Linked DNA regions of Homo sapiens. The protein of the gene in region 2 purifies or fractionates together with the protein of the main gene of each other region. This does not show direct contact. Each region holds a gene or a part of one and is shown on either strand. Other genes may lie near its edges.

Evidence for each region.
Region 1: the proteins of POLR2B (region 2) and GPN2 purify together in Homo sapiens (affinity purification with mass spectrometry; 4 studies listed by BioGRID and IntAct, with this or other methods). This does not show direct contact.

Annotation. Positions count from the first base shown.
Region 1 is NC_000001.11:26,879,187-26,884,355, forward strand, and holds part of GPN2 (GPN-loop GTPase 2), read right to left. Parts: intron 5,105-5,169; coding exon 4,974-5,104; intron 564-4,973; coding exon 491-563; 3' UTR 1-490. UniProt on the Homo sapiens protein: Small GTPase required for proper localization of RNA polymerase II and III (RNAPII and RNAPIII). May act at an RNAP assembly step prior to nuclear import.
Region 2 is NC_000004.12:57,026,870-57,032,038, reverse strand, and holds the end of POLR2B (DNA-directed RNA polymerase II subunit RPB2), read right to left. Parts: intron 1,836-5,169; coding exon 1,640-1,835; intron 1,267-1,639; exon of another isoform or gene 1,141-1,266; coding exon 1,051-1,140; 3' UTR 881-1,050; downstream 1-880. Other genes in the region: IGFBP7 (insulin-like growth factor-binding protein 7 isoform 1 precursor), read left to right, coding at 703-722. UniProt on the Homo sapiens protein: Catalytic core component of RNA polymerase II (Pol II), a DNA-dependent RNA polymerase which synthesizes mRNA precursors and many functional non-coding RNAs using the four ribonucleoside triphosphates as substrates.

The sequences.
Region 1 (5,169 bases), on a different chromosome or scaffold from region 2:
ACAAACCTCAGAACCAAAAACTGAAGATTAATAAAAACACATGACTGGAGACTGAATGTAAATCCTATGTGACTGAATGTGAATTATATGCTTTGGGGAAATACTGATTATTCCAAGGCTAGGTGACACTCCCTCATTCTTCCCCAAACCCCTGGGCCCGGAAGACTGAAGAAAAGTTTGGAAGTCACAAAAAGTAGAAAATAAACTCTTGTATTGTAGCACATTTCATCACAGCCTGACTAGGACCAGTGCTCGACTTTCTGGTGGCAGGGCCCAGAGCTCACGGACACCACTGACAGTATGGGGGGTGTTCTGCTTGGCACCATGTCTGGCTTTTTGGCCAGAAGTCCTTTGCAGAGCTGAATATCCCCTTGCCAGCCCGCCAGCTCTGGCTGGGAGGACTTGCTCTTGGGTCTGCAGCCTGCATCAGGAGCCTCCACTTTCCCCAGTGCTGGATTATGCATCCTGCTCTCCAGGGTCCACCTTGTTGCTACAGCTGCATGGCTTCCTGCTCCACTGACTGGTTCGAGGGTGCCAGGTACTTCTCCTGGATGCCCAGTGTGCTGAGGAAGGGTGCGTCAAGGCTGATAGCATAGGCAGAGGATGGGGAGCTGGTCTGGGCAGGATCTGACTTCCGCTGATGCCTACACTCCAACCATGTCCATCCCTCTCTTCCTCATAATTATAGGGACCAATCAGGTATGAGAAGCCTCCAAAAACACCCAGACTCAAATGCTCCTCTATCTGCCTCTTCCACACACTGCTGCGGATCAAAGGACTGGACAGTACTAACCTTGCAATTTTGCGTTATGGCACATGCTCTGGAGCCAGACTAAGGGAGTTCAAAACCTGATGATGTCTGGGTCTGGGGTCTGACGAGGACATGGAGGTTAGCCATGGCTAGGTTGGCTATGTTAGGACACCATGGCTGTTGTACTACCAGATGGCTCCAAAGTAAGAAACAGATTCTACACCCACCAAAACCAAGGTTTGAACTGTTCTTCCAAAACATCCCGGGAGAGGGACCTTGGGCCTGTCGCCTCAATTATAAAAGGGGTTGAAATGAGGATTAAATGACCCTGCAAGTAAAGCACTTAGCCCACCAAATGATGTTCGAGTTACAGACCTTTCTTTTTCTTTTTTTTGAGACAGAGTCTCACTCTGTCACCAAGCTGGAGTGCAGTGGCGCGATCTCGGCTCACCGCAACCTCCAACTCCCTGGTTCAAGCAATTCTCCTGCCTCAGCCTCCAGAGTAGCTGGGACTACAGGTACATGCCAGCACACCCAGCTAATTTTTCTATTTTTAGTAGAGACAGGGTTTCACCATGTTGACAGAAATGGTCTCGATCTCCTGACCTCGTGATCCGCCCGCCTTGGCCTCCCAAAGTGCTGGGATTACAGGCGTAAGCCACCACGCCTGGCCAAAAATAAATTTTTATACTTTAAAAAAAAAAAAGAGAGAGAGATGGGGTCTCACTATGTTACCCAGTCTGGTCTCAAACTCCTGGCCTTGAGCAATCCTCCCACCTTTAACTCCCAAAGTGTTGGAATTACAGGCATGAAGCCATTACACTTGGCCCATGCCATCTTATTTGCAACCCTTGAAACCTGTCTCAACTTTGAACCCCTATGCCTTTGCATGTTCTCTTAACTTGAATTCCCTTTTCTTCTTCATTAGACTGGCTAACCCTCACCTTGAAATGACACAACTCACGTGTCATGCCTCCATAAAGCTTTCCTTACCCACCTACCCTTCAGCAAAGCTGACCACTCCCTTATTTGTATCAGTCCCTACTCTCTTACAGAGAGCTGCTGAATCTTAAGGGGGTTAGGGTCAGGGCAGAATCTAAAATCAGCACAAATGTATATGGTTAAAAATACTCTTTAAAATTCCTCAAATTATTTGTTAAATGCAGCATACATGGTTTTGTGAATAGAATCCTTTATATATACGAATACATAAAGTAACGTACAGATGCTCCTTGACTTATGATGGGGTTACATCCTGATAAACCCATCCTAAATCAAAAATATCTTAAGTCGAAAATGCATTTAATACACATAACCTACCACACATCATAGCTTAGTTTCGCCTACCTTAAATATTCTTAGAACACTTACGTTAGCTGCATTTGGGCAAAATTATCTAACACAAAGCCTATTTTACAATAAAGTATTGAATATCTCATGTAATTTATTGAATACTGTACTGAAAGTGAAAGAATGATTGATAGGTACCCAAAGTATGATTTCTACTGAATGCATATAGCTTTCACACCATCATAAAGTTGAGCCATCATAAGTTGGGAACCATCTGTACGGTGTACAAAATACTACATTATTTAAATTGCTTCTCCCAGCCTAGGCTGTATGGTGAAACCCCATCTCTACAAAAATTAGCTGGCCACAGTGGCACACGCCCATAGTCCTAGCTATTCAGGAGGCTGAAGTGGGAGGATCACTTGAGCCCAGGGAGGTCAAGGCTGCAGTGAGCTGAGATCACGCCACTGCACTCCAGCCTGGGCAACAGAGTGAGACTCTGCCTCACAAAATAAACAAACATAAACTGCCCTTCCCAGCTGGGGACGATGGCTCATGCCTGTGATCCCAGCACTTTGGGAGGCTGAGGTGGGAGGGTAACGAGCCCAGGAGTTCAAGGTCGCAGTGAGCTATGATTGCATCACTGCACTCCAGCCTGGGCAAAGGAGCAAGACCCTGCCTCTAAGAAATAAATATAAAAGTTGCAGGCCGGGCATGGTGGCTCACGCCTATAATCCCAGCACTTTGGGAGGCCAAGGCAGGTGGATCACCTGAGTTCAGGAGTTCGAAACCAGCCTGGCCAACATGGTAAAACGCTGTCTCTACTAAAAATACAAAAAATTAGCTGAGCGTGGTGGCGGGCGCCTATTATCCCACTTACTCGGGAGGCTGAGGCAGGAGAATTGCTTGAACGTGGGAGATGGAGGTTGCAGTGAGCTGAGATTGCACCATTGCACTCCAACTGGGGCAACAAGATTGACGGTCCGTCTCAAAAAAAAAAAAAAAAAAGGGCCAGGTGTGGTGGAGCATGCCTGTAATCCCAGCTACTTAGGAGGCTGAGGGAGGAGAATCACTTGAACCCTGGAGTTGGAGATTGCATTCCAGCCTGGGCAACAACAGCAAAAGAAAGTCCATCTTAAATTTAAAAAAAAAATTGCTCCTCCCCTCTTTTGCTGAGCACATGCAGTCCAATTGGCCTACATTAACTGCAGGTGTGACGCAGCTCCTTAGTACCTTCATCAGGGACTGCACACTCTACTGCCATCATTTATAAGTCATTCCTCCAACCCCGACCCCATGAGCTTTGTTTCCCACATATGGCTCGAGAAACATCAGTAAGTGTTGGCTGGAATTATTTTCCTCTATACCCTAAGACTCCTGAGTCCCCCTTGTCTCCAGCATGCTGCATAGATGCTGAATCTGTGAGAGCATCAGCCTAGAGGGCCTGGACTTTTCTGTCCTGCTTCACGCATGGCCTCTGTGACCTGATGGACACCTACCCATGACCTTGGCTCCAGCCTCATTAGTCACTAACCAAGCTCCAAAAGTCTGGCTGCCTCTTGGACAGCTCTGGATGTCCCATGGACCCCTGAACACAGCACATCTGCCAGCTCTTGTCCCTTTCATCCATGTGACAAACCTGCTCCCTCCTCCTTTTCCTGCCTCAGTGATTAGTACAACCACCCACCGTCTAAGCCAGAGATCTGGGAAGCTAAGTTCTACTCCAGCTCCATCTATCCCATTCAGTCACTGACTCTTACAGTCTATCTCCTTAGTATTTTTCCATTCTACACCTTTCTTTCTATTCTCACTACAAATCTTTCAACCCTTCTCACCTAGCAAGACTGTAAAACTCTTTTGCCCCCAATCACGTCCCTTAAATGCATTTTCCACAATTGCAGGGGCTTTTCTAAAATGTACATCTGATTGTGTCACACCCTGTTCAACAGTACTGCTTGAATACTTGCTCCCACTGCCCACCCATGAACTGAAGTCCACATTCCTTAGTAGGGCACTCAGGCCCCTCCCTCGGCAGCCCTGCCTGTACCCCTGCAACGCCCTTTCCTCTTCACATGCAACACACCAGGAACTGGACTCCTGCATCTCTCCCGAATGACTAATGCCCTCTCATTTCTGGGCCTCTGTATTTGTTACTCCTATTGATCAATATCCTCTCTTGTCCTCAGTACAACCAACTCTGAAGCCAAGGGACCACCTTTGCACATGAGAGACAGTCATCAGGAAGCCCAACTGATCAATATGAAATCAGTCATCCACGGCCGGGCGCAGTGGCTCATGCCTGTAATCCCAGCACTTTGGGAGGCTGAGGCAGGTGGATCACCTGAGGTCAAGAGTTCCAGACCAGCCTGGCCAACATGGTGAAACCCCGTCTCTACTAAAAATATAAAAACTAACTGGGCACAGTGGCGCACACTAATACCAGCTACTTGGGAGGCTGAGGCAGGAGAATTGCTTGAATATGGGAGGCAGAGGTTACACAGAGCCAAGATTGCGCCATTGTGCGATCCAGCCTGGGCAACAAGAGCGAAACTCCCTTTCAAAAAAAAAAAAGAAAAAAGAAATTGGGTGGATCACAAGGTCAGGAGATCAAGACCATCCTGGCCAACACAGTGAAACCCCGTCTCTACTAAAAATACAAAAAATTAGCTGGGCGTGGTGGTGGGTGGCTGTAGTCCCAGCTACTCAGGAGGCTGGGGCAGGAGAGTGGCGTGAACCCGGGAGGCAGAGCTTGCAGTGAGCTGAGATCGTGCCACTGCACTCCAGCCTGGGCGACAGAGCAAGACTCCATCTCAAAAAAAAAAAAAAAAAAAGAAATTGGTCATCCACAAGGTTGATGACTGCACCTCCTGTGGCCATTCTTGAGTCCCATGTCTCACCCTCTCTGCTATGGCCAGGAAGCTGGCAAGGATACGAAGAGAAATGGAAGTCGGCTCCCATTGCGGCAGACATCATGGCTTCCAAGCTTCGCTGCTCTTGGGCTCTGAAACAGTATCCATTGGCTTTATCCACAGCCTGCAGGACTCGCTGGATGCTCTCCTTGTCCTGAGCAGGGAGGAGAGAAACAGTTCTGTGAGTGAAACAGAAGTATGTAAAACTGCTTGCAATCT
Region 2 (5,169 bases):
GAAAAGGCCACAAAGGAGAGTATATTGGCAAATACCCAGTTCTGTTCTGCCTCCCCTTCCTTCACTGCCAAAAAGCTTCCTCTGAAGAACCCATCCTGTGTCATAGCAGTGCTACTTTACATTTATATAGTTCTATGAAACTGATGTCTGAATTGGCTTTCCCTTAGACAAAAGAACAAAATTTACCGTCACCATGTGTCAAACCATTCCACTGTGCAGATCACTCAGCTGTGATATGAAAAGAAATATTAAGTAAAGAAGTATTTGGTCAGATTCTCTTCAGCCATAATGTGTAATGTCAGGCAATGAAACAGAACAGTAGCTAAGAGTCAAGCCATGCGTTTGAGTCTCAGCTCTGCTACTAATTATTCCTCCACTTTACCTTTTGAAGGAGATCCGGACTACAAAGGAAAGGTCTTTAACCTCTCTGAATCTCATTGTGAAATGTGCTCTTCCAGTTCTATAATAAGATGTACCTTTGATGCATCAACCAATACAGCAAAATTGCCTTTCATAGCTAAAATCATGTAACTTGAGTTCCACAGAGCACTCCAGCATATCATTTATACAATTACTCATATATCCTTTATCCCCATATTTTAACATCTTCATTTATTTGGAAACACTCAACTACCTGCCAATTCAAAAGTCAACCACATCCCCATATGTAACTAATTTTTATCTTTTTTTTTTTTTAAACAGGTGAAGGTGCCGAGCTATAAACCTCCAGAATATTATTAGTCTGCATGGTTAAAAGTAGTCATGGATAACTACATTACCTGTTCTTGCCTAATAAGTTTCTTTTAATCCAATCCACTAACACTTTAGTTATATTCACTGGTTTTACACAGAGAAATACAAAATAAAGATCACACATCAAGACTATCTACAAAAATTTATTATATATTTACAGAAGAAAAGCATGCATATCATTAAACAAATAAAATACTTTTTATCACAACACAGTACATATTTGTCATTTTTAAAAAGCCACACAATAGAAACAAGACACCAAGATATTTAATTATCTTGTTGACTCCTGTAAAATAGCTAAACACTCATCATTCGCGGTGCAATACTCATAGACATAAGTTCCTGAAACAATAGTTTGCATGCGTAAGGCATTCGCACCAAAGAAATCTGAAAAGAAAAAACAAATGGTAATTAGCAGAATTGTATTGAAGTGACCCCACTTCTCTACCCCAGAAAAAGACAAAGATCTGGTACTGTAGATAATGAATAAATGAGTGGAGCTGAGAACACACATTCTGCTACCTCAGCTTATGGTGGTTCTTTCTCCTAGTAGGCTTTGGTATTTTACCCATTCTGCCAGACATAATTTATATTCACCCACCTCAACTAAAAGGTTTTCAAAAACTCATTGTTTAAAATCCCTTGTACAAAGTCTTATTATTTCCAAAAGATGAATAGCTTAGAGAAATTACCACACTAAAACCTAAACTGGTTTTTAGAAAAATCAAATTATCTTTTCCTTATTTAGAACTCGGAATCTCACAGAAGCATGCTATCAAAATTGTGAAAATGCCAATCTGTTCTGCCACACTAATTCTGCCTGGATAATCAGACCAACACAGTTTCCTCTAAACAAATATCAACTGCCAGTAAAGTCTATACACACCTGGGTTTTATTGCGGCAGCCCCTGCATTCATATGTATGGGTCCTGGTGTTGGCAATCGCCATTATTCCACAAAGATTGCAAACATGAACCTGATATGGATCTGATGCCTCAAACAATCTTTCCCTTAAAAACTGGGCTGCTCCATGGGCAATCTGACAATCTCGTTCCATTTCTCCAAAACGCAGGCCACCATCACTGTTAAGAGAAAAAAATTATTACTTTGTACTTATTTTTTATTATAAACACCGCCTTGAATAATGGCAAAGGTGGAGAATAATATTTGCAAAGACGGATAACTAGGCTCTAATTTTTATACCCTAGCATTCTCTCTATTGGTGGGGAGAGGAGAAGTCTACCAACTATTTGACGTGCATTAGAAAGTCCCCAAATGGGCTAAGCAAAGTGGCTCACCCCTGTAATCCCAGCACTTTGGGAAGTGGACTGGGTGGATCTCTTGAGCTCAGGAGCCTGGGCAACATGGCGAGACCCCATCTCTATTTTTTAACAAATAAAAATAAAAACAGAAGGTCCCCAAATGGAGTGGATACATTAGATTCTTAAGTAGAGCATTTAATTTTCCTCATAAGACACAATAAAGCATAGAGTGGAGGTTCATCATGCTATCATTTAACTTTCTAGAATTCAACTCTATACTAAAAAAATGAATAATGAAAAAGACAATCTAAATAAGGCAGCTTGTCAATGGAATGACTGTCCCAGGCAATCAACCTTGAAATCATAAATACATGTTGGCTGAAGTAATGGAAAGAACAGGTAAATGATAATAGGTTTCCCCAACATAAGAAGTGAAATAAATGCATTATTCAGATGGCCAGGCAAATAGATGGTGATGGCTTCCTTAACATACTTAATATCCAAAATATACAAAATAAAACCAATGGGTTTATAATGATATTCCACCAAAACAAAAAAATCATTGGTCGACTTTGGACCACTGATCTGGATCATTAGACAACCAGCTCACTATTTTGAAAACTGGTAAATAAAAAAAGAGAATCAAGCATTTATTCCTGCCCTTACTATAAGAACTACATCACTAGGTAACCAAACAGTTGAGGAAACAAAGTTTTAGAAGTAGTCTGGCTAAAAACTGAAGAAGGACTGAGAAAAAATAGAATGGTATCAGTTGGAAATCGCCATTTAATTAAGGTCTTTAGTAATAGCTGCTAAAATCATAAAAAGAAAGGCAACCAGATACTGGAAGTATAGAATACCACCTATAAAGTATTACTGCCAAAAAACTCAAACGCTAAATCTCAAGCCTCAAGATCTATTTACAAAAAACAAAAAACAAACAAACAAACAAAAAACAGCAATGCACAGCATTTGGGATGCAAGCAGCAAAATTCAGTCTCAAGCCCTGGACAAACAGTCCAGGTTGTTCAACAAACAAATTACAAGGGGAAAAAAAAGGTTGGAAGGCAACCAATAAATTCAAAAAAGGACTTATGAGACACTATCAATCAATTGCAAAGCATGGACCTTATCTGTATACTGATTAAAACCAACAAACCTTTAAAAAACTTATGTGATAATCAGGGAAATGTAAATCTGGATATTTAATACTAAGGAGGTACTGTGGTTAGGTTTAGTGTCCTAATCTTTTAGAGCAGAGGTTCTCAGAGTGTGGTTCATGGACCGCCTGAGAGTCAAAGCTATTTTTAATAGTAATACTAACAACATATATTTGCTTCTTTCACTGTGTTTACATTTGCACTGATGGTGGAAACATGAATAAAACTGCTGACACCTTAGCAGAACTCAGGGTAGCAGAACCAAACATTACTAGCAGTCATATTCTCCATTCAAGTGAAGGGGAGAAAAGCCAGTTTTACTTAAAAATGTCCTTAATGAAGCAGTGAAAATAAATAGTTTTATTAAACCTTAACCCTTGAGTATACATCTCTTTCATATCCTGTGACTTTTAAAAAAATGAAAGTCCTCAACCAGGCACGATGACTCACACCTATAATCCCAGCACTTTGGGAGGCCAAGGTGAGAGGCTGGATTGAGCCCAGGAGTTCAAGACCAGCCAGAGCAACACAGTAAGACCCAGTCTCTATATAAAAAATAAAGTAAAATAAAATGGAACACTTCATAAGCACTTCTACTGCATAGTGAAGATGACTGTCTTGAACAAAAGCACTTGCATGATTCTGAACTAGTCCCTTTTAACATGGAGTATCTTTTTTACTCAAATAGCCAGCTGACACCAACTATGTTAACTCATCAACATGTTAACACCCATGATGTTAATTCAGACTTAGAATTAAGTTGACGATGTTGTAGATATTTGGCAGACAAAGAAATGAACAAAAAGAAATGAAAGCAAACGAAAAAAGTAAGTCTTTGAGGAAAATAATTTTAAGTATTTGTTGAAAATGATGAAAATTGTGAGCTTCAAGCAAAAATCAGAATTTTAGGAAACTTCTATGCACCACTATGGGCTTGATAGCTTCCTGATATATTTAAAGGCTTTTCTAATGACATCAGTAGTCATATTAACAAATGCAATTTTTTTATTATAATGAAGTGTGTTAACATTTGAAAATCTACGTAACTCAGCAAACCAATATTTTCCAAATGACCAATTAGGATGCTACAAAATATGCATGTGTAAAAGATACATCTGAAGTACAAGACAAACCAATGAACTTCAAACATAAATACAGAAGGTTCATTCATATGGTTTCAGTTTCTACATCAAAACCAACCTTTGAGAAACTACAACTTACCGTTTTGGTGTAGTATCAAAAAAATATCCACAGGCCAGGCGCCTTGGCTCATGCCTGTAATCCCAGCACTTTGGGAGGCCAAGGCAGACAGGTGGATCACTTAAGCTCAGGAGTTTGAGACCAGCTGGGAAACATGGCAAAACCCTGTCTCTACTAAAAAATATAAAAAATTAGCTGGGCTTGGTGGTGCATGCCTGTAGTCCCAGCTACTTGAGGCTGAGATGGGAGGATCACCTGAGCCTGGAAAGTAGAGGCTGCAGTGAGCTGTGATTGTGCCACCACACTCCAGCCTAGGCAACAGGGATGAAACTGTCTCAAAAAAAGGGAAGGGGTGGGCTGGGCGTGGTGGCTCTTGCCTGTAATCCCAGCAATTTGGAAGGCCAAGGCAGGCGGATCACTTGAGGCCAACCATTTGAGACCAGCCTGGGCAAAATGGTGAAACCCTGGCTCTACAAAAAATACAAAAATTAGCTGGGCTTGGTGGCGCACACCTGTAATCCCAGCTACTTGGGAGGCCGAGGCACGAGAATTGCTTGAATCCGGGAGGCGGAGGTTGCCGTGAGCCGAGATCGCACCACTGCACTCCAGCCTGGGTGACAGAGTGAGACTGTCTCACAAAAAAAAAGCCAAAATATTCCTCTCTTTCCAACCACTTATTTGCATGAAATTAGAACTTCCTCATATACTTAAATATAAAAAATAAAATACTACAATGGAATGAATGCAGAAGTAGATGTAAGAATCCAGCTGTTTCTATTAAGCCAGGTCATTAG